Linked DNA regions of Homo sapiens: all the other regions are linked to region 1. Evidence: fine-mapped expression QTL. A gene starts in region 1. Each other region holds a variant in brackets. All regions are shown on one strand. Distances are from middle to middle. Region 1 holds the start of FGFR4 (fibroblast growth factor receptor 4). Region 2 overlaps UIMC1 (ubiquitin interaction motif containing 1). Region 3 overlaps ZNF346 (zinc finger protein 346).

The links. PIP is the estimated chance that this variant, and not a neighbour inherited with it, causes the effect.
Region 2: its variant is the best candidate, but not a certain one, in a credible set for the expression of FGFR4 in B cells (Schmiedel 2018, PIP 0.51).
Region 3: its variant is the best candidate, but not a certain one, in a credible set for the expression of FGFR4 in anterior cingulate cortex (GTEx, PIP 0.78).

Annotation. Positions count from the first base shown.
Region 1 is chr5:177,082,686-177,090,865 of GRCh38, forward strand. FGFR4 (fibroblast growth factor receptor 4) reads left to right here and starts at 4,230. Exons shown (of 18, transcript NM_213647.3): 1 at 4,230-4,392; 2 at 6,865-7,008; 3 at 7,705-7,968; 4 at 8,060-8,140. The coding sequence starts at 6,918. RefSeq lists silencers at 3,841-3,890, 4,141-4,600, a promoter at 4,111-4,330 and an enhancer at 4,296-4,746.
Region 2 is chr5:176,983,496-176,991,675 of GRCh38, forward strand. The region is part of intron 1 of UIMC1 (ubiquitin interaction motif containing 1); the gene reads right to left. Among named protein-coding and RNA genes, the nearest start is that of UIMC1, 19 kb to the right of the region's middle. RefSeq lists a silencer at 1,260-1,460. The variant CAA/C (reference allele first, on the strand shown) is at 4,635.
Region 3 is chr5:177,044,942-177,053,121 of GRCh38, forward strand. It overlaps ZNF346 (zinc finger protein 346), which reads left to right. Exons shown (of 7, transcript NM_012279.4): 5 at 5,810-5,995. Among named protein-coding and RNA genes, the nearest start is that of ZNF346, 26 kb to the left of the region's middle. The variant C/T (reference allele first, on the strand shown) is at 4,765.

The DNA.
Region 1 (8,180 bases):
AAGCTGGAGCAGCCGGGAGCCGTTGCTCACGCCTGTAATGCCAGCACTTTGGGAGGCCGAGACGGGTGGATCACCTGAGGTCAGGAGATCGAGACCAGCCTGGCCAACATGGTGAAACCCCGTCTCTACAAAAATACAAAAATTAGCTGGGTGTGGTGGCAGGCGCCTGTAGTCCCGGCTACTAGGAAGGCTGAGGCAGGAGAGGCAGGAGAATTGCTTGAGCCTGGGAGGCGGAGGTTGCAGTGAGCCAAGATCACGCCACTGCACTCCAGCCTGGGCAATAGAGCGAGGCTCCATCTCCACAAAAAAAAAAAAAAAAAAAGGAAGAAGAGGAAGCTGGAGCATGACGGCTTTCTGGGTGGGGAAACTGAGGCAGAGGCAGGTTAACAGCAGGATCTTAGGGTGACAGGCTCTTGCCTCTGCTAAGCGAGAGAGAGAGAGAGAGAGAGTGTGTGTGTGTGTGTGTGTGTGTGTCTGAATGTATTTTTTTTTTTTTTTGAGACAGGGTCTTGCTCTGTTTCCCAGGCTAGAGTGCAGTGCGTGATCTTGGTTCAATGCAACATCTGCCTCCCAGGTTCAAGTGATTCTCCTGCCTCAGCCACCCCAGTAGCTGGGATTACAAGCGTGTGCCACCATGCCTGGCCAATTTTTGTATTTTTAGTAGAGATGGGGTTTTACCATGTTGGCCAGGGTGGTCTCGAACTCCTGACCTCAAGTGATCCGCCCACCTCAGACTCCCAAAGTGCTGGGATTACAGGAGTGAGCCACTGTGCCCAGTCGTGTCTGAATGTCTTTGAGAAAGAGACTGCAAATGTGACTGGTGAAAGATTGCGTGTCAGCAAGAGAGTGAGACAGTGTGAAAGGCTTAGGTGCTCTCCCTGACTGGCTCAGCTTATCTCCCAGGCTGTAACTGATTACTTATCTGTCTGTCCCCACTACAATGTCAGCAGCCCCTTGAAGGGTAGAAGTAGGGTCCAGGCCAGGTGAGGTGGCTCACATCTGTAATCCCAGCATTTGAGGAGGCTGACATGGGCAGATAACTTGAGGTCAGGAGTTTGAGACTAGCCTGGTCAATATGGTGAAACCTTGTCTCTACTAAAAATATAAAAATTAGCCAGGTGTAGTAGTGCACATTTGTAATCCCAGCTACTCAGGAGCCTGAGGCAGGAGAATCACTTGAACCCAGGAGGCAGAGCTTGCAGTGAACTAAGATCACACCACTGCACTCCAGCCTGGACAACAGAGCAAGACACTGTCTCCCAAAGAAAAGAAAAGAAAAAGAGTCCAATTCGGGGCTTTATCCCCAGGATTTAAAACAGTGGATGCCACATAATGAACCTTCAATAAATAATCATTCAGATGAATGAGTGAATGAGTGAATGACTTTGTGAGGGAGCATCAGCCTCTGTGGAGGGTCAGTGTGAAAGGTTATGAGTGCGGGGAGAGGAGGCAGACAAGGGATATGGGGAACATATCCTAGGGACATCAGAGGGTTGCAAATCTGAGGGATTTGCGCATCTCAGGAGACAAGGAGGTTGCAAGACCTGAGCTATGAAAACTTTTAGTTTGTCTTTGGCTCTGGTAAACTCAGGAAATGCCCGGGAAGGTGAATGAAAGCCATGTGGGGTCCAGCTCCAGCTGGCGGCTCACCCTGTCTCCCCCCACAACCACATTCACAAGGGGAGCCAGCAGAGGGCCAGAGGCAGGGAGCTGAACCCCTCCAGCAGTCCGGGAGGTCTGGCAAGGTACCCTCTGGGCAGGCAGCTCCCAGGGCCAGGAGCCTCATCTGTCCTGGGAGCTCCAGCAAGGCAGGACTCTAGAGAAGGGAACCAGGACAAATTGTTTTTAAAAGATAACCAATTAAAAAAAAATTTATAATATACATATATATGTGTGGGTGTGTCTGTGTGTATGTATATACACACAGACACACAGACACACACAGACACACACACACACACACACACACACATATATATATATATATATATTTTTTTTTTTTTTTGGAGACAAAGTCTCACTCTGTCACCCAGTCTGGAGTGCAATGGCACGATCTCGGCTCACTGCAACCTCCACCTCCCGGGTTCAAGCAATTCTCTGCCTCAGCCTCCCTAGTAGCTGAGATTACAGGCACATGCCACCATGCCTGGCTAATTTTTTTGTATTTTTAGTAGAGCTGGGGTTTCACCATCTTGCCAGGTTGGTCTTGAACTCCTGACCTCGTGATCCACCCACCTAAGCCTCCCAAAGTGCTGAGATTACAGGCGTGAGCCACCGTGCCCAGCCTAATATATATTTTTAATAGAGACGAGATCTCACTATGTTGCCCAGGCTGGCCTCGAACTCCTGAGTTCAAGCGATCCTCCCGATTCAGCCTCCCACAGTGCTGGGATTATAGGCATGAGCCACCATGCCTGGCCTCAATTATTTTCTGATTTATCTTTGGGAGGAGACCATTCTTTCGCTTAAGAAGAAAAAGAAAAAAACAATTTTAAGTCTCTTTAATGGGCCTTACAGTTATGCAAAGATATGCCACTATCCCTTTGGGAGTGAGGGTGGAAAGAACTAGACTTGCCTGCGTAACAATGAGAAAGGAAGTTGCTTCTTAAGACAGGGTCTACACTAGCTAGAGGGGACAACCAGGACCTGAGCCTCAGACAGGGTCTCGCTCCATAGCCTGTTGCCCAGGCTACAGTGCAGTGGAGCGATCACGGCTCACTGCTGCCTCGACTTCCTGGGCTCAAGCAATCCTCTGGCCTCAGCCTCCCAAGTAGCTGGGACCACAGGTGCACCCAGCCCATTTCCCTTCCTCTCAAGGTGCCTTAAGAGAAGGAGAAGGCTTGAGATTCAGGTGAGGGATGGGCAGAGATCAGAGGCTGCCTGGCCTCCTGGTTTGGCCACAGTCTAGATGCTCAGGAGAGAAGTGCTTACAGGTGAGGCAAACATGAGCCAGGTGGGCACGGAGCTATCTGGGAGCACCTACTGTATGCCAGACACTTGAACTCTAATGGTGAGGTCTGAGGACACAGTTCCTCTACTGAAAAATAGAGACAGGGCAACTATGTTGCCAGGGCTGGCCTCACACTCCTGAATTCAAGCTGTCCTCCTACCTCAGTCTCCTAGTAACTAGAACTACAGGCACCCGTCATTGTGCCCGGCCATTCCACAGCTATTTACATAATTAACTGTTCAGTTACAATTCTGGCAAGCGTGCTGAAGAAATAACAGGTCCTAAATAATTACAGCTAGTATTACAAAGCAAGCGCTGCATGCCAGGCTTACACATACTGCTAACATGTCTACTTTTTGCAACAACCTCTTGTGGGTGAGACTATCATTTGCCTGTTTTACTGAAAGGACAGTGAAGACTGAGGCCTTGTGTGATGGTGCTGAGAGCTGGGCCTATGACGTCCAGCCCTGTAGTCTGTGCTCTGAACCACTTCACCCTGTTTCTTTCTCCATCCTCACAGTAGAGACGTCATCTAAGAGGAGCTTGCAAGTCCAGAGGGCTTCCTGAAGGAAGTGAGCTGAGAATAATATGAAATTAACCAGACCAAGGGCCATTCCAGGAAGAGAGAATGGTACGTGAAACTGCCCAGGAGTAGCAGGGTGGGAGCCAGGAGGCGTGGGTCATGGCAATCTATGTATAAAGAGCTATGGGAATCTATAGGAAAATTTAAGGGAGTGGCTGACACAGTCAGATTTGTGTTGTAAGTATCACTCCGCAGGTTGCGCAGGGAACAAATGAGGGAGCAGAAGGAAGGGGTTCTCCTATCCGCTGCACGGCACTGCGCAGAAGACAGGGGAGCCAGGCATTCCCTGAAGGGTGAAAAGCAAGGAGTAGAGCTGGGTAGTAGACTAGAATTTAGGAGCCTGGCCTGGGGCCTGGGTGGGGCGAAAGAGGCGGAGCCTGAATGGGGTGTGTATAGGGGGGTTGCGTGTAGGGGTGTGTGTATAGGCTGGGGCGGGGTCCCGGGAGTGGGCTGACTGGGTCGGGGGCGGGGCTCTCCAGGTGGGCGGGGATCTTGGCCACCCCTGGCCACACCTCTCTCCGGCTCGAGCTGGTCTAGGCGGGGCGGGCCCGAGGGGGTGTGGCAGGAGGTGGGCGGGCCCGGGTGGGGGGGGGGGGGGCGTGGAAGGAGGGGCGGGCCCGAGCAGGAGGGGGCGGGCCCGAGGGGCGGGGTGGGACAGGAGGTGGGCCGCTCGCGGCCACGCCGCCGTCGCGGGTACATTCCTCGCTCCCGGCCGAGGAGCGCTCGGGCTGTCTGCGGACCCTGCCGCGTGCAGGGGTCGCGGCCGGCTGGAGCTGGGAGTGAGGCGGCGGAGGAGCCAGGTGAGGAGGAGCCAGGTGAGCAGGACCCTGTGCTGGGCGCGGAGTCACGCAGGCTCGAGGTGAGCCGGAACCCTTGTGGGCCCGGGCTGCGCTCCCAGCCGCCAGGGGGCGAGAGGCGGCGGGGCTACGGGGACTGCCCCTCCCGGCGCAGGGGACCTGGGCGTCCGCCGGGCGGCAGGGGGTGGAGGGGGCGGTAAATCAGTAACCCGCAGTGCACACAGGGCCTTTTGTCCCGCTCCGTCCAAAGAGCACCCCGGCCGCGGAGCTGGTTACTCATTGCCCACCGAGGCGGGGGCAGGCTGGCCCTGTGCAGCTACCCTCGGGACCCATTGATTCGCACCTCCCCCCAGGCTGGCCCGGCAAGGGTGGGGGAGGACAAGCGCGCTTGTCCCTGCGGCTGTCTTCGCGCCGGCGGCAGAGATGAGGGACCTGAGGCCCCGAAAAGTTCAGTCACTTAGTGCCCGGGGGCCTCCAGCGCGAGTGCGGGAGGCTGAAGGAGAACCCAGGACTGTCTGATGCCTAAGGCAGGCCCTCCATTCCCACGTGGGGGGTGGTCGGTCAGCGGTCAGCAGCCATGGGTGACTCGACTAAGGACTCTGATATCAGGGCAGCCTGGGGTAGGAATAAACTCCCCGGGCCTCCCCACCCACTCCCAGCCCAAGCTGTGTACCCAAAGAGCTGCCCTCCCTGCCAAGCCGAGCTTGGTAGGGAGTTTTACCAAGGAGGATCCGACTGGATTCGAGAGTTGAGGTGGGCCAGAGACAGCAGTATCTGAGTCAGGTAGAGAAGAGCAATGAGGGGCACAGAGGGATGGGCAAGAGAGCACATGTGCCCAGTTTTGAAAGCCAATGGCTTCAGCGCTCCTGAAGGGGCAGACGGTGTGACCAAAGAGATAGGCAGCGGCAGAGAGGGAGCCCTAGGATGTTGAGCTGGATCCTGCTGGGCACAGGTAGCCATTAAGGGCTTGCAAGCTGGGGGGCATGACATGGCAGACTTGCAGGTTTTTTTGTTTGTTTTTTTATTTTATTTTATTTTTTTATTTTGTTTTTTTTGAGACGGAGTCTCACTCTGTCGCCCAGGCTGGAGTGCAGTGGCGCGATCTCGGCTCACTGCAAGCTCCGCCTCCCGGGTTCGCGCCATTCTCCTGCCTCAGCCTCCCGAGTAGCTGGGACTACAGGCGCCCGCCACCGCGCCCGGCTAATTTTTTGTATTTTTAGTAGAGACGGGGTTTCACCGTGTTAGCCAGGATGTTCTCGATCTCCTGACCTCGTGATCCGCCCACCTCGGCCTCCCAAAGTGCTGGGATTACAGGTGTGAACCATCGCGCCCAGCCGACTTGTAGTTTTTTAAAACTCTGCTGGAAGATGAAGGTTGAAGAGCCGAGGGAGAGGATGTTTCCAGAGGCCCATGCAAGAGATGGCCATGACCTGCCTTGAGAAGGGGCAGGGGAAGCCAGATGGACTGGAAGTGGAGTGGCAGTGACCAAGGAGGAGGAGGTGTGATAGGCTTCCCACGCAGGGTAGATCCAGAGACACCAGTGCCACCCATAGGCCCCTAGGACTGCAGTGGTCACCGATTCCTTTGTCCCAGCTGAGACTCAGTTCTGAGTGTTCTATTTTGGGGAACAGAGGCGTCCTTGGTAGCATTTGGAAGAGGATAGCCAGCTGGGGTGTGTGTACATCACAGCCTGACAGTAACAGCATCCGAACCAGAGGTGACTGGCTAAGGGCAGACCCAGGGCAACAGGTTAACCGTTCTAGGGCCGGGCACAGGGAGGAGAACATTCCAACACTCTGCGTGCCGACGCACGTTCTCTCTTTTATCCTCAAAACAGTCCTATGAGGATAGTAAGCCAGAGAGAGACAGAGACAAGGAATTACAAGTTGGTGAGAGTCAGGATTTGAACTTGGCTCTGGCAGATGGAAAATTAGGGTCTGTATTCTTTACAAAACCGTGTGTGCCTCAGATGGAGTTGGTGCATAACAAGCAGAGGTATCCAGGGTCGCGGTCCTGCTTGCCACGGAAGGGGCCGCCTTGTCAGTTGTGACCACCCAGCCCTGGAAATGTCAGTAATGCTGTAAGGAGTGGGGATCGGATCAGATGCCATCCAGATGCTGAAGTTTGACCTTGTGTCATTTTTCACTTTCTTTTTTGGCTCTTCTGCAATCAATTCATTTATTTAGCAAAAAAGAAATTATGTGTGCCGAGAGCATGCAGAAGATATGTCTCCGTTCTCTGCTTCCCTCCAAAAAAGAATCCCAAAACTGCTTTCTGTGAACGTGTGCCAGGGTCCCAGCAGGACTCAGGGAGAGCAGGAAGCCCAGCCCAGACCCCTTGCACAACCTACCGTGGGGAGGCCTTAGGCTCTGGCTACTACAGAGCTGGTTCCAGTCTGCACTGCCACAGCCTGGCCAGGGACTTGGACACATCTGCTGGCCACTTCCTGTCTCAGTTTCCTTATCTGCAAAATAAGGGAAAAGCCCCCACAAAGGTGCACGTGTAGCAGGAGCTCTTTTCCCTCCCTATTTTAGGAAGGCAGTTGGTGGGAAGTCCAGCTTGGGTCCCTGAGAGCTGTGAGAAGGAGATGCGGCTGCTGCTGGCCCTGTTGGGGGTCCTGCTGAGTGTGCCTGGGCCTCCAGTCTTGTCCCTGGAGGCCTCTGAGGAAGTGGAGCTTGGTATGGCTTCTGAGGTGGGAGAGGGTGGCAGGGGTGGGAAGAGTGGGCACCAGGAGGGGGCTGCTGGGCTGAGCAAAGCTGGAAAGGATCCTTGCCCAGGCCCTGAGAAGGTGGCGGCAGGGCAGGGCTCAACCACTGAGACTCAGTCAGTGCCTGGCTTCCAGCAAGCATTCATCTATCACTGTGTCTGCGAGAGAGGACTGGCCTTGCAGGGCGCAGGGCCCTAAGCTGGGCTGCAGAGCTGGTGGTGAGCTCCTTACCTGGGTGTGTGTGCGTGTGTGTGTGTGTTCTGTGCACTGGGTGTGTGACCTAGGAGGTCCAGGCAGCATGTGTGGTATAAGCATTATGAGGGTGATATGCCCCGGTGCAGCATGACCCTGTATGTGGCACCAACAGCATGTGCCTTGTGTGTGTGTGTGTCCGTATGTGTGTGTGTGTATGCGTGTGTGTGTGTGTGTGTGTCTTGGCCACTGTCGTGTGCACTAAATGCTGTGTGTGTGACATGCCCCAAGAGTGTGGCATTTGCCCTGGGTGTGGCATCCGCAGCATGTGGCTGTGTGGGTGTCAAGGAGTGGTGGCTCCTTCAGCATGCGTTGCAAAGTGCTTGTGCCCTGCATGTGCGGTGTGTTCTTTGTACACAGGAGGCTGCCTCAGATGGGGCTGCGGGGTCTGCTGACCTCTGCCCTCTGCCCACAGAGCCCTGCCTGGCTCCCAGCCTGGAGCAGCAAGAGCAGGAGCTGACAGTAGCCCTTGGGCAGCCTGTGCGTCTGTGCTGTGGGCGGGCTGAGCGTGGTGGCCACTGGTACAAGGAGGGCAGTCGCCTGGCACCTGCTGGCCGTGTACGGGGCTGGAGGGGCCGCCTAGAGATTGCCAGCTTCCTACCTGAGGATGCTGGCCGCTACCTCTGCCTGGCACGAGGCTCCATGATCGTCCTGCAGAATCTCACCTTGATTACAGGTGGTAAGAGACTCTAGCAGGGAGTGAAGGGATGCCTGGGGAGACAGACCTGCCCCTCTTGGACCTTAGATGCTTCCCTCTGTCCCTGATGTAGACTCCTTGACCTCCAGCAACGATGATGAGGACCCCAAGTCCCATAGGGACCCCTCGAATAGGCACAGTTACCCCCAGCAAGGTCAGTAGGTCTCCAAGGACTTGTGTCCCCGCTGCTGCTC
Region 2 (8,180 bases), 99 kb before region 1:
AGGTGCTGGGATTGCAGACGGAGTCTCGCTCACTCAATGCTCAATGTTGCCCAGGCTGGAGTGCAGTGGCATGATCTCGGCTCGCTACAACCTCCACCTCCCAGCCGCCTGCCTTGGCCTCCCAAAGTGCTAAGATTACAGCCTCTGCCCGCCCGCCACCCCATCTAAGAAGTGAGCAGTGTCTCTGCCTGGCTGCCCATCGTCTAGGATGTGAGGAGCCCCTCTGCCCGGCCACCCCGTCTGGGAAGTCAGGAGCGCCTCTACCCGGCCGCCACCCCGTCTAGGAAGTGAGGAGCCCCTGCCTGGCCGCCCATCGTCTTGGATGTGAGGAGCGCCTCTGCCCGGCTGCCCCGTCTGGGAGGAAGTGAGGAGTGCCTCTGCCCGGCCGCCACCCCATCTGGGATGTGAGGAGCACCTCTGCCCGGCCACCCCATCTGGGAAGTGAGGAGTGCCTCTGCCCAGCCGCCCCGTCTGGGAGGAAGTGAGGAGCGCCTCTGCCCGGCCGCCCCGTCTGGGAAGTGAGGAGCGCCTCTGCCCGGCCGCCCCGTCTGGGAAGTGAGGAGTGCCTCTGCCCGGCCGCCCCGTCTGGGAAGTGAGGAGTGCCTCTGCCCGGCCGCCCTGTCTGGAAAGTGAGGAGTGCCTCTGCCCGGCCGCCCTGTCTGGGAAGTGAGGAGCGCCTCTGCCCGGCCGCCCCGAATGGGAAGTGAGGAGCGCCTCTGCCCGGCCGCCCCATCTGGAAAGTGAGGAGTGCCTCTGCCCGGCCGGCCCATCTGGGATGTGAGGAGCGCCTCTGCCGGCCGCCACCCCGTCTGGGAAATGGGGAGTGCCTCTGCCCGGCCGCCCCGTCTGGGAAGTGAGGAGTGCCTCTGCCCGGCCTCCCCGTCTGGGAAGTGAGGAGTGCCTCTGCCCGGCCGCCACCCCGTCTGGGAAGTGGGGAGCGCCTCTGCCCGGCTGCCTATCGTCTGGGATGTGAGGAGCGCCTCTGCCTGGCCGCCCCATCTAGGAGTGAGGAGTGCCTCTGCCTGGCCGCCCCATCTAGGAGTGAGGAGTGCCTCTGCCCGGCCGCCCCATCTGGGAGGTGTACCCAACAGCTCCGAAGAGACAGCGACCAACGAGAACAGGCCATGATGACGATGGCGGTTTTGTCAAAAAGAAAAGGGGGAAATGTGGGGAAAAGAAAGAGAGATCAGGTTGTTACTGTGCCTGTGTAGAAAGAAGTAGACATAGGAGACTCCATTTTGTTCTGTACTAAGAAAAATTCTTCTGCCTTGGGATGCTGTTAATCTATAACCTTACCCCCAACCCCGTGCTCTCTGAAACATGTGCTGTGTCAACTCAGGGTTAAATGGATTAAGGGCAGTGCAAGATGTGCTTTGTTAAAAAGATGCTTGAAGGCAGCATGCTTGTTAAGAGTCATCACCACTCCCTAATCTCAAGTACCCAGGGACACAAACACTGCGGAAGGCCACAGGGACCTCTGCCTAGGAAAACCAGAGACCTTTGTTCATGTGTTTATCTGCTGACCTTCTCTCCACTATTATCCTATGACCCTGCCACATCCCCCTCTCCAAGAAACACCCAAGAATGATCAATAAATACAAAAAATAAAAATATAGAGGAATTTTTTTTAGAAAAATATAGGGAAAAAATGGTTTTTTTTTCTATAGAGAGAAACATAGACTGGGCACAGTGGCTCATGCCTGTAATCCCAGCACTTTGGGAAGCTGAGGCAGGTGGATCATTTGACGTGAGGAGTTGGAGACTATCCTGGCCAACATGGTGAAACCCTGTCTCTACTAAAAATACAAACATTAGCCGGGCGTGGTAGCGCATGCCTGTAATCCCTGCTACTCAGGAGACTGAGGCAGGACAATCACTTGAACCCGGGAGGCGGAGGTTGCAGTGAGCTGAGATCGCACCACTGCATTCCAGCCTGGGCAACAAGAGGGGAATTCTGTCTCAAAAAAAAAAAAAAAACAACTATATAAATATACAAATCTCATTCTCCATGGTGAAATTTCAGTATCAATAATATAGTCATGTATCCTAGTTCTTTAAACATCAATTTAGATAATTGCTTTTCTTGACTACATATTATAATTTACCTACAAGTTTTTTTTCTTTTTTGAGACAAGGTCTCGCTCTGTCACCCAGGCTAGGGTGCAGTGGCATGATCGTAGCTCACCACAGCCTCATCCTCCTTGGCTCAAACAACCCTCCCACCTCAGCTTCCTGTGCAGCTGGGACCACAGGGGTGTGCCAGCACACCTGGCTAATTTAATTTACTTTTTATTCCTTATAAGATAGGATCTCACTATGTTAACTAGGTTAAGATTTTTTAAATACCAAATGCCTCAACCTGATAAAGGACTTCTACAAAAATCCCATAACTAATAAGCTAACATCATGTTTAAAGGTACAAGACTGAATGCTTTCTCCTTTCGACAAGGAGCAAGACAAGAATGTTTCCTTTCAGCTGGGCGCAGTGGCTCACCCCTGTAATCCCAACACTTTGGGAGGCCAAGGCAGGAGGATCACTTGAGGTCAGGAATTTGAGACCATCCTATGCAACGTATTTTTTTTTTTGTAGAGACAAGACATGGCATCCTGTGTCTACAGGATAGAAGGCCGTCGTGGGCTGATCACCTGAGGTCAGGAGTTCGAGACCAGCCTGGCCAACATGGTAAAACCCCATCTCCACTAAAAACACAAAAATTAGCTCGGCGTGGTGGCGTGTGACTATAATCCCACCTAATCCAGAAGCTGAGGCAGGAGAATCACTTGAACTCAGGAGGTGGAGATTGCAGTGAGCTGAGATTGTGCCACTGCACTCCGGCCTGGGTGCCAGAGTAAGACTTCATCTCAAAAAAAAAAAAAAAAAAAAAAAAAAAAGTAAGGCACACTGGTGAGCACCTACAGTCCCAGCTACTCAAGAGGCTGAGGCAGGAGGATAGCTTGAGTGTGTTTGAGACTGCCATGAGCTATGATCATGCCGATGAACTTCAGCCTAGGCAACTGGGCAACAGAGCAAGACCCTGTCTCCAAAAAAAAAAAAAAAAAAAGGCTGGGCACACTGGCTCACACCTATAATCCCAGTATTTTGGGAGACCAAAGCAGGAGGATGGCTTGAGCCCACAAGTTAAGAGACCAGCCTCATCAACATAGCAAGACCCTGTCTCTACAAAAAATTAAAAAATTAGCTCAGCATGGTGGCATGCCTGTGGTCCCAGCTACTGCAGCCTGGGCAACAGGGCATGGTTCTATCTCAAAAAAAACAATGTCTGCTTTAATCATTGAACATTATACTTAGGGTTCTAGGCAGAACAATTAAGCAAAGAGAAATAAAAGATACTCAACTTAGAAGTAAAACTATCACGATTTGCAGATGACATGACCTGTGTTTAAAAAAAAACACTAAGAAACACATTAAAAAACTATTATAGGCCAGGTACAGTGACTCACACTTGTAATCCCAGCACTTCAGGAGGCTGAGGCGGGCAGATTACTTGAGGTCAGGAGTTTGAGACTAGCCTGGCCAATATGGTGAAACCCTGTCTCCACTAAAAATACAAAAATTAGCCAGGCGTGGTGGCGGGCGCCTGTAATCCCAGCTACTTGGGAGGCTGAGGCAGGAGAATCACTTGAACCCGGGAGGCAGAGGTTGCAGTGACCCAAGATCGTGCCATTGGCACTCCAGCCTGGGCGACAAGAGCGAAACTCCATCTCAAAACAACAACAAAATCAACAGTTCATCAAGGTTATCTTGCCTTGTATCAATGCAGGAAACAAGTCAACATACAAAAACCAATTGCATTCCTATATGCTAGACATAAACAATCAAAACTGAAATTTTAAAAATTATATTTCTGGCTGGGCACAGTGGCTCATGTTTATAATCCCAGCACTTTAGGAGGCTGAGGCTGGTGTATCACTCGAGGTGAGGAGTTTGAGACCAGCCTGGCCAACATGGTGAAACCCCATCTCTACCAAAAAATAAAAATAAAAAAACTAGCCAGGCATGGTGGTGCACACAGGTAGTCCCAGCTACTCAGGAGGCTGAGGTAAAAGGACTGCTTGAACCCAGGGCAGAGGTTGCAGTGAGCCAAGACCACACCACTGCCCTCCAGCCTGGGTGACAGAGTGGGACCCTGTCTCAAAAAAATAAAATAAAAATAAACATTAGCCAGGCATGGCAGCTAATGCCTGTAGTCCCAGCTACTTGGCAGGCTAAGGAGGAGGGATCACCTAAGCCCAGGAGGTTGAGGCTGCAGTAAACTGTGATCACACCACTGCACTCCAGCCTGGGCAACAGAGCAAGACCCTGTCTCACAAAAAAAAAAGACATCAAACGTAAAAGTAGCCCAGCAGAGTGGGCTGTAATCCCAAAACTCTGAGAGGCCAAGACTGGTGGATCACTTAAGCCCAGGAGTTTGAGACCAGCCCAGGAAACACGGCAAAACCCTATACAAAAAATACGAAATGTAGCCAGATGTGGTGGCGCACTTGTAGTCCCAGTTAGTTGGGAGGCTCAAGTGGGAGGATGGAGGATCAATTGAGCCCAGGAGGTCAAGGCTGCAGTGAACCAATATCCGTGCCACAGCACTCCAGCCTGGGTGACAGACTACGCCCCTGTC[CAA/C]AAAAAAAAAAAAAAAAAAACTCAAATCATTAATCATGAGGGAAACGCAAATCAAAACCACAATGAAATATCACTTTATACCCACTCTGATGGCTGGCTATTTTTTAAATAATGGAAAATAACTAGTGTTGGTAAGGATGCTGGAGAAACTGGAACTCTAGTACACTGTATTATTGATAGGATGTAAAATGGTGTAGCCACTATGGGGAAACAAAAGGAATGAAGTATTAATACATGCTACAACATGGATGAACCTTGAAAACATGCCAAGCGAAAGAAGCCAGACATAAAAGGCACATATTGTATGATTCTATTTATAAGAAACATCCAGAATAGGCAAATCCATAGGCAGAAAGCAGATTAGTGATTACCAGAAGATGAGATAGGGGAAAATGTACAATGACTGCTTAATGGATATAAGGTTTATTTTGGGGATGATAGAAATGTTCTGGAATTAGAAAGTGGTAATTGCACAACACTGTGAATTTATTAAAAGCCACCAAATTGTACACTTAAAATGACTGAAATGGTAGATTTTGTTAGGTGAATTTTTTTTTTTTTTTTTTTTTTGGAGACAGAGTCTTACTCTGTTGCCAGGCTGGAGTGCAGTGGTGCGATCTCTGCTCACTGCAGCCTCCACCTCCCGGGTTCAAGCAATTCTCCTGCCTCAGCCTCCCAAGCAGCTGGGGCTACAGGCATGTGCCACCACGCCAGGCTAATTTTTGTATTTTTAGTAGAGATGGGGTTTCACCATGTTGGCCAAGATGGTCTCGATCTCTCGACCTCATGATCCACCCACCTTGGCCTCCCAAAGTGCTGGGATTACAGGGTAAGCCACCGTGCCCAGCCTGTTAGGTGAATTTTACCTCAATTTTTTAAAAAGGGGAGCCCCGGATGATTTTATTTTACAGCCAGAGCAGAGAATCACTGACTCAATCACAGATTTAAATAAAGCCACCTTAACTTTGTAACAAACTTCTCAAACCATTCAATTACTCCTAAGGGGGTTGTTACATCTTATTATCAGAAGTAGTCTGTACAATACTAGCATTAAAGTTTTTCTAAAAAAAACACTTAAAGGATTAAAAAATTCTAAATTAAGGGATAGTAACAACATACACACACAGATGCTTACAATTTACAAAATCATTCCCCATGATAAAACTCGACACACAAACGTCCTTTTCTGCATTTAATGCATATTTTTAATGACTAAAGAACAAGAAATTACAAAGATGAAAAAATTAGCCAGGCGCAGTGGCTCAAGTCTGTAATCCCAGCACTTTGGGAGACCAAGGTGAGAGGATCATCTGAGGACAAGAGTTTGAGACCAGCCTGGACAACATGGTGAAACCCCATCTCTATTAAAAATACAAAAATTAGCTGGGTGTGGTGGCACATGCCTGCAGACCCAGCTACTGGAGAGGCTGGGGCAGGATTGCTTGAACCCAGGAGATGGAGGTTGCAGTGAACCAAGATCACACCACTGCACTCCAGCCTAGTCAACCGACCAAGACCCTGCCTCAAAAAAAAAAAGAAATATACTTTTAACTTCTGTATTTAAATACAGTTAACAGAATATTTATTGCATATGCAATGCAGAGGTAGCTAGTTATTATTTAAGTATACATAAATTCATACTAAAGCAGTAACATCTCACTAGATAACTAGATATGACCTATCCACTATGGTCTAAATGTTTGTGTCCCTCCAAAATTCATATGCTGACATCTAATCCCCAATGTGTTGGTAAGAAATGGGGCCTGGGGCCAGGCGCAGTGGCTCACGTCTGTAATCCCAGCACTTTGGGAGGCCGAGGCAGGCAGATCATGAGGTCAGGAGATCGAGACCATCCTGGCTAACATGGTGAAACCCCGTCTCTACTAAAAATACAAAAAAATTAGCCAGGCGTGGTGGCGGGAGCCTGTAGCCCCAGCTACTCGGGAGGCTGAGGCAGGAGAATGGCGTGAACCCGGGAGGTGGAGCTTGCAGTGAGCCGAGATCGAGCCACTGCACTCCAGCCTGGGCAACAGAGCGAGACTCTGTTACAAAAAAAAAAAACAAAAACAAAGAAAGAAATGGGGACTTAGGGAAGTCATGAAGACACAGCACTCATGAATGGGACTAGTGCCCTTATAAGAGAGGCCTAAGAGAACCTGTTTGCCCCTTTTACCCTTCTGCCATGTGAAGACACAGCAAGAAGGTCCCATCTTTTAAGCACAGTGCAAGCCCTCATCAGGCACCTTGATCTTACATTTACCAGACTTCAGAACTGTGAACAAAAAAAATTGTATTGTTTATAAATTACCCAGTCTAAGATATTCTGTTATAGCAGCAGGAAAAGGTTAAAAACCTATCAAGTTACCATTACACAAATTAAAACACAAATAAGATGACATATTTGTACTTCCTAAAATAAATTAATTTTATATTAATTCGCAAGAAGTGAATTTTCTAAACCCCAAACTGTAACAGAAATGGAAAAAACACATGCAACTTTGTACAAATGTTGCCATATTTCTAATATAAATAGATTTTATATTTATGTTTTTGTTTCTTGAGATAGGGGCTTGTTCTGTTGCCTTGGCTTGAATGCAATGTGTATGATCATAGCTCACTGCAACCTGTAACTCTTAGGTTCAAAGAATCCTCCTGCCCCAGCTTCCCAGGTAGGTAGGACTACAAGAGTACACCACAACACTCAGCTAATTTTTTTTTTTAAAGAGATGGGGGTCTTGCTGTGTTGCCCAGGCTGGTCTTGAACTCCTGGCCTCAAACGATCCTCCTGCCTTGGCCTCCTAAAATGCTAGGATTAGAAGCACAAGCCATCATGACTAATCAAGTCCTCAGTTTTATTTTTTATTTTATTTTTTATTTTTATTTTTATTTTTTTTGAGACAGAGTCTCGCTCTTTCGCCCAGGCCAGACTGCAGTGGCACTATCTCGGCTCACTGCAAGCTCTGCCTCCCAGGTTCACACCATTCTCCTGCTTCAGCCTCCTGAGTAGCTGGGATTACAGGCGCCCGCCACCACGCCCGGCTAATTTTTTTTGCATTTTTAGTAGAGATGGGGTTTCATCGTGTTAGCCAAGATGGTCTCGATCTCCTGACCTCGTGATCCACCTGCCTCAGCCTCCCAAAGTGCTGGGATTACAGACATGAGCCACCAAGCCCGGCCTCAGTTTTAATTCACCTTACTCTACCTTTTTAGATTCAGGTCTGCTACTACCATAATGAAGACTACCCAAAGAGCAAATCTCTTTGGGGAGAAACAGCAAAGACAACTGAGGGGAAAGAATATGAAATCTGGCAAATTGAGAAGACAGATCTGACCAGCCTGGGCAACACAGAAAGACTGCCTCTCGATCACCTGAGGTCGGGAGCTCAAGACCAGCCTGACCAACATGGAGAAATCCCATCTCTACTAAAAATACAAAATTAGCCAGGCATGGTGGCACTATTGCATTCAAGCCTGGGCAACAAGAGTGAAACTCCGTCTCAAAAAAAAAAAAAAAAAAAAGGCCAGGCGCGGTGGCTCACACCTG
Region 3 (8,180 bases), 38 kb before region 1:
GTTATGGCCTACTCACTTTAATCCTCAAAAGCTGCCTGTTCTCCTCAAGACAGGGACTTGCCTTTCAAAGCTGAATACTTCAGTGCTGCTACTACTGCCCCACAATCTGTAACTGCCATGAATTCATTCCCAGTACAGTGACTTCTGAAATAGCCCCCTTTATCTCGTCACGACTAGGGCTCAGCCCTCACTTTCATCTCATTAACTCCTGACTTTCTGGGGTTTTAACCTCTGCTAATTGCAATTAGTCAAGAGTGAAAGTTCTTTGATGTTTATTTCATTGTTTTCTTGATAATTTTTGCTTCTCTATTTTGGACCAAGAAGTAGACTACACTATTAGTAATACTATTATCCTTTTTGTGTTTACTGACAACTGTGTTTTGGAAGCCTTCAAAGGTAGGGTGAAAAATCACTCATAATTTTTTTTTTTTGAGATGGAGTCTCGCTCTGTTGCCTAGGTTAGAGTGCAGTGGCATGATCTCGGCTCACTGCAAGCTCTACCTCCCAGGTTCATGCCATTCTTCAGCCTCAGCCTCCCAAGTAGCTGGGACTACAGGTGCCCACCACCATGCCCAGCTAATTTTTTTGTATTTTTTAGTAGAAACGGGGTTTCACTGTGTTAGCCAGGATGGTCTCAAACTCCTGACCTCGTGATCCACCTGCCTCGGCCTCCCAAAGTGTTAGGAATACAGGCATAAGCCACCACGCCGGCCAAAACCTTTTTTTTTAAATAGAGATGGCTTCTCACTATATTGCTCAGGCTGGTCTTGAACTCCTGGCCTTAAGTGATACTCCCATCTCAGCTTCCCAGAGTGCTGGGATTACAGGCATGAGCCACCACACCTGGCCACTCATAATTACACCTTTTTATCACACCCACATCTAGTTATTCATGGTATGAAACAGCAGAATGTGGACTTTGAAGTCACAGAGTCCCAGGTTTAAAGCCTGGCACTGTTACTGTTTATATGACTTTTTTGTGTCTGAACTGCCTAACCTATAAAATGATAATAATACTGTCTACTTCATCGGTTGTGAGGATACAATAATGTGTATTAAAAACACAGGACATAGGCCGGGCATGGTGGCTCATGCCTGTTGTAATCCCAGCACTTTGGGAGGCTGAGGTGGGCAGATCACTTGAAGTCAGGAGTTCAAGACCAGCCTGGTCAACACGGTGAAACCCAATCTCTACTAAAAATAACAAAAATTAGCTGGGTGTGGTGGCACGAGCCTGTAGTCCCAGCTTCTTGGGAGACTGAGGCAAGAGAATCGCTTGAACCCGGGAGCTGGAGGTTGCAGTGAGCTGAGATCGCACCATTGTACACCAGCCTGGGGGACAGAGCAAGACCTCGTCTCAAAAAAAAAAAAAAAAAAACCAATTTTATAAGGTCACAGACTTCTCTTCCCACAAATGGGAAAATTCTCTGCATTATGCCTTGTCCCTGAAATTTCATACTCGAGATTATTTTCCATATTCACTTTCAGCTTTTGCCACATACTTTGTTTTTATATAGTTGTGATCATAATGCAGGTACCCTTTATATCCCGCTTTTACTTTTCATTTAATTTTACAGCTTAAGCACATTTCCATGTTATTACACAACTTTATAACTATATTTCTGAAATTAAACACTTTTTAATGTAAAGTAATATAATCATGTTGTAAGAGATAAGGAAAACATGGATAAATGGAAAGAAAAGTTACCCATAATTTTACCATTCACAGATAAACACTGTTAACATTTTGGTTTCTCCTATAATCTGTTTCTCCTATAATCTTATTGTTATATGTATCTTTGTATATCTGTGTGTATATTCGTTTTGTGTATATCTAGGTTAACTCCGTGTATATGTGCATATAAACATAGACTACTTTAAATAACTTTCATGTTTTTATAAAAACAATGCATACTCATTATGAATAATTCCACTTCAAACAATTGCAAAAGATACAAAGAAGAAAGTAAAATATCACCTAAATCCTACACCAAGAGAGAAATACTGTTAATATGTTGGTGATGTTTTAAAATACCAGTATGCACATATGGATTACACGTGTGGGGTTTTTAAAATTTTTTTATTTATTTTTATTTATTTATTTATTTATTTATTTATTTATTTTGAGATGAAGTCTTGCTCTGTCACCCAGGCTGGAGTGCAGTGGCACGATCTCGGCTCACTGCAACCTCCGCCTCCTGGGTTCAAGCGATTCTTCTGCCTCAGCCTCCCAAGTAGCTGGGACTACAGGCGCGTGCCACCGCGCCTGGCCAATTTTTGTGTTTTTATTAGAGACGGGGTTTCACTATGTTGCCCAGGCTGGTCTTGAACTCCTGGCCTCAAACAATGATCTTACCGTATGGTATGTACAATTGCCTTTTTTGTTTGTTTGTTTTTTGTTTTTTTTTTTTTTTGAGATGGAGTCTCCCTCTTTTGCCCAAGCTGGAGTGAAATGGCGCAATCTCAGCTCACTGCAACCTCTGCCCCACCAGGTTCAAGCAATTCTCCTGCTTCCACCTGCTGAATAGCTGGGATTACAGGTGCCCACCACCATACCCGGCTAATGTTGTTTTTTTGTTTTTTTGAGATGGAGTTTTGCTGTCGCCTAGACTGGAGTGCAGTGGTGCAACCTTGACTCACTGCAACCTCCACCCTCTGGGTTCAAGCAATTCTCTTGACTCAGCCTCCTGAGTAGCTGGGACTACCGGCACCTGCCACCACGCCCAGTTAATTTTTGCATTTTTAATAGAGACAGGGTTTCAACATATTGCTCAGGCTGGTCTTGAATTCCTGACCTCAGGTGATCCACCCACCTCAGCCTCCCAAAGTTCTGGGATTACAGACATGAGCCACCGTGCCCTGCCTAATTTTTGTATTACTAGCGATGGGGTTTCGGCATGTTGGCCAGGCAGATCTCTAACTCCTGATCTCAGGTGATTCACCCGCTTCTGCCTCCCAAAGTGCTAGGATTACAGACATGAGCCACCGCACCTGGCCATACAATTGCCTTCTATATGTTTTTTATTTAATATGACATTTGTATTTCCCCATGTTATTAAAAAATTCTTTATAAGCATTTTTAGTGACTGCATCGTACTACATTTAATATTCGTCTAATGCTGAACATTTAATCTCCCCACCCCCCACTTTTTGGTGTTACAGATAACACTACAGTGAACATCTCTGTAGAACACTTTATTACATTTCAGGTTATTTTCTGAGAACAGACTCTATATCCCTCATTTTATTGGATGCGCATTAAATGGTTCTAGACTTACTTACACTTTCACTTCTGATGCTTCTGTTCAGTATCTCAAAGAATGACCGTTCTCTCTTAACAACCATTATACCTCTTTTCTGATGTTAAAAATCTACATTCATTACAGAAAAGTTGGAAAATAGTAGGCCGGGTGCTCACGCCTGTAATTCCAGCACTTTGGGAGGCTGAGGCGGGTGGATCACCTGAGGTCAGGAGTTTGAGACCAGCCTGACCAACATGGAGAAACCCCATCTCTACTAAAAATACAAAATTAGCTGGGCATGGTGGCGTATGCCTGTAATCCCATCTACTTCGGAGACTGAAGCAGGAGAATCGCTTGAACCCCAGAGGCAGAGGTTGCAGTGAGTCAAGATCGTGCCATTGCACTCCAGCCTGGGCAACAAGAGCAAAACTCCATCTCAAAAAGAAAAAAAAGAAAGGAAAAGTCGGAAAATAGTGAAACACACTCTACTCTCTGTGCTTTTGATCTTTTTTCCATGCTGTCACCTATGCGTTTGTTGTTGTTCTATAAAATTGAGGACATAAGAAGCAGATTGATGTGTAACTTGTTTTTTTCTTTTTTTTTCTTTTTTTTTTTTTTTGAGACAGAATTTCACTCTTTTCGCTCAGAGTGGAGTGCAATGGCGCAATCTCAGCTTACTGCAGCCTCCGCCCACCTGTTCAAGCAGTTCTCCTGCCTCAGCCTCCTGAGTAGCTGGGATTACAGGCATGCACTACCACACCCAGCTAATTTTGTATTTTTTTAGTAGAGACTGAGTTTCACCATGTTGGCCAGGCTGGTCTCAGAACTCCTGAGTCAGATTATCTGCCTGCCTCAACCTCCCAAAGTGCTGGGATTACAGGCACAAGCCATTGCGCCTGGCCTGTAACTTGCTTTTTTTACACTCAACACCACAAACAGAATATTTTCTCATATTATAAAATATTCTACAACATGTACATTACTTTTTTGATGACTTGCTGAAACAAAATCAACAAGCAGAGAAACTGAAATTCCCTATACTAGAAAAACCATTGTGGGAAAGGCCAGCAAATTTCTTCTGGCTTGCCCAAAATCCTCAAAACTTCCCCAGTTGAAGTGATACAGGTATGGAAGAGCATCTGAGACATATCATCTGTGAGTCCTGCTGAGCCCCATCAGTCCTCCACCACTGGTGGGGGCTTCTGGGCCCCACATTTTTAAAGCAGTAGTTGCTAGGTTGACACCATTTCAGCCACATGGACTTGTTAGTGAGTCGTGGCATCCGCTTTATGAGGCAGCAGCGCAGCCTAGAGTCAACATCAAGCCATATGTTGATGCACAAGAGGCTCGCATGTATGCCTATACCAGGCTCTGATTCACTGAATTCATTGGCCAGAATCAGGGATGTTTTCTGAAGGCGTAAGTAAGAGCTATAGCCTTCAGGTCTTCTTGCCACACTGGCAGCCTGGCATAGCAAAGAGAGCACAGGCTTTAGGGTCACAGACCTGGCTTCACTCACTGG[C/T]TGGGTCACCTTGGGCAAGCCACTTCACTCATCTGAGCCTCAGTTTTTCTGAATAATGTGGCAAAGTGATACCTACCTCATTGGGGTAGTTCTGAGGACCAAAGGAGAAAATATATGTAGAAAACACATCACTAATTTTTTTTTTTTTGAGGTGGAGTTTCGCTCTTGTCGCCCAGGCTGGAGTGCAGTGGCGCAATCTCGGCTCGCTGCAACCTCCGCCTCCTGGGTTGAAGTGATTCTCCTACCTCAGCCTCCCAAGTAGCTGGGATTACAGGCACACGCCACCATGCCCAGCTAATTTTTGAATTTTTAGGAGAGACAGGGTTTCACCATGTTGGCCAGGATGGCCTCAATCTCTTGACCTCGTGATCCGCCTGCCTTGGCCTCCTGAAGTGCTAGGATTACAGATGTGAGCAAAACGCATAACTAAATGTTAATGGTCCTCTTTTCTCTCTACTCAGCCTATAATATGCAATGTAGCCTAAAAGGCATCCCTAGTATGGTTACCTTTTCTGAATGACCTTGTATGAGCTCCAGGAACTCAAGCCTCAATTTCTGTATCTGTGCATTTGTTCCCAGCTCTGCAACTGTATTACTTTAAGGATGAGAATAAAACTCCCAAACTTCGTGTCCCACTTGCTGTGAAGTTCTGGGAAGTACTGAGGTATCCCTGCAAGAGTGCAAGTGTGCATCTCTAGTCTATTGTAACTTGGCAGCCTGACAGGAGAAGCTCAGGGCCTCCTAAGAATATGAGAACCACCAGGATTTGTGGGCTTAAAGTAGTTAAAGCCGCTGAATGAAATAGCCAGTCTTTGGGCTCCCTCAAATCTTCCCAGGTTTCCCAATTAGAGAATGCATTCACCTGTGTGACTCACACAGGCAGTGCCACATCTGCAGTAGGATTAACTGGTGTCACAGCCCTTTCTATTCAGCATACTCAAAAGCCTGACACCTTCTGGGTTTTTTCATTGTTTCTGTTTGAACTCTCTCACTGCAGCTCTGTCAAAACGCCTTACAAATCCTTTCCTTGTGGCCTCCACCTTAGCCTTGCACCAGAATAGAGAGATGATAGACCCAGACAAGTTCTGCAGCCTCTGCCATGCAACTTTCAACGACCCTGTCATGGCTCAACAACATTATGTGGGCAAGAAACACAGAAAACAGGAGACCAAGCTCAAACTAATGGCACGCTATGGGCGGCTGGCGGACCCTGCTGTCACTGACTTTCCAGGTGAGGGGGCCTAGCTCACACCCAGAGCTGGACCAGGGTTTGGCCACTGGGGCTACCCGGACCAGCTGACGTTGTGCTTTTCCTCCTTAGGTCTTGTAAGTAGGGTTTGCGAACTCAGATGGCTACAGAAGCCAGATGAGAAATTAAAATGAGAGCCAGGAAGGGGATATGGTCAGCTGAAGAGTGAATGCCATTCCTACTCAGCTGTTACCATATCTTTCAGGTTTTCTTTTCTTTTTTTTTTTTTTTTTTTTTTGAGACAGAGTCTTGCTCTGTCACCCAGGCTGGAGTGCAGTGGCGCGATCTCGGCTTACTGCAAGCTCCACCTCCCAGGTTCATGCCATCCTTCTGCCTCAGCCTCCTGAGTAGCTGGGACTACAGGTGCCTGACACCATGCCCAGCTAATTTTTTTGTATTTTTAGTAGAGACGGGGTTTCACCATGTTAGCCAGGATGGTCTCGATCTCCTGACCTTGTGATCCGCCCACCTCGGCCTCCCAAAGTGCTAGAATTACAGGCGTGAGCCACCGCGCCCAGCCCTCTTTCAGGTTTTCAAAAGACTCTGGAAAGCCAGATTTATATAGAAATCCCTCTGTTTTTGTTTTTGCGTTTGTGTTTTTTGAGATGGAGTCTCCCTCTGTCACCCAGGCTGGAGTGCAGCGGCGCAATCTCAGCTCACTGCAGCCTCCACCTCCTGGGTTCAAGCGATTTTCCTGCCTCAGCCTCCCGAGTAGCTGGGGCTACAGGCACACACCACCACGCCCGGCTAATTTTTGTATTTTTAGTAGAGACAAGGTTTCACCATGTTGGGCAGGATGGTCTCGATTTCCTGACCTCGTGATCCGTCCGCCTCGGCCTCCCAAAGTGCTGAGATTACAGGCGTGAGCCACTGCACCCGGCCCCTCTGATTTTTAAATGTGTAACTAAATTAAAAAATTTTTAAGCCCAGCCAGGCATAGTGGCTTATGCTGTAATCCAAACACTTTGGGATGCCAAGGTAGGAGGATCACTTGAGCCTAAGAGTTCAAGACCAGCCTGGCCAACATGGTGAGATCCCATCTCTACTAAAAATTTTAAATATTAGCTGGGCATGTGGCGCATGTCTGTAGTCCCAGCACCTTGGGAAGGCTGAGGTGGGAGGATAACTTGAGCCCAGGAGGTCAAGGCTAAAGTGAGATATGATTGTGCCACTGTATTCCAACCTGAGTGAGAGCGAGAACATGTATCAAAAAAACAATTTTTTTTTTTTTTTGAGACAGTCTCACTCTGTCTCCCAGGCTGGAGTACAATGACACCATCTCACCTCACTGCAACGTCTGCCTCCTGTGTTCAAGCGATTCTTATGCCTCAGCCTCCTGAGTAGCTGGGATTACAGTTATGTGCCACCCCACATGGCTAATTTCCGGCTAATTTTTTTTGTATTTTTAGTAGAGACAAGAGTTTCACCGTGTTGGCCAGGTTGGTCTCGAACTCCTGACCTCAAGTGATCCACCCGCCATGACCTCCCAAAGTGGTGGGATTAGAGGCATTAGCCACCAAGCCCAGCCAAAAAAAAAAAAAACTATTTTTAAACCCTGTGTAAGTCAGACCTGTCTGCAAGCCAGATTTGGGCCAAGGACCCTTAGCGGATTAGATCAGAATCTCATGTTCTGATAGTTCTTACTTTGTACCTCCACAAAGGTGAACCCCTGAGAGAGAAAAGGTTGCTTCCTATCAGCAGAATTTAGACCCCTACATTAAAGTTTTGCCTCCCCCATTCTTTGGTTGTGGTTATGTTAAGGAGATACTGGTACTAAGAAAAACTACTAAAACTACACGTACACATGGTCCCCAACTTCCTATGGTTCAGCTTTATGATTTTTTTCAACTTTACGATGGTGTGAAAGCAATAGATGTTGAGTAGAAACTGTACTTCTCTTGCACTGCTAGGCAGCAATTGGTAATAAGTTTATCTAGATGTAACCCCATTGTAAGTCAAGGAACATCTGTAGAGTGAGAGAAAGCATGGAAATCTTCTGCTGACTTGCAGGATCCATTCACCACTCATTGGTAAAGGATGAATTCCTTGTTTTTACCTTTTTTTTTTTTAAGAGGGTCTCTTGCTGGATGCAGTGGCTCACGCCTATAATCCCAACACTTTGGGAGGCCAAGGCAGGTGGATCATAAGGTCAAGAGGGCGAGACCAT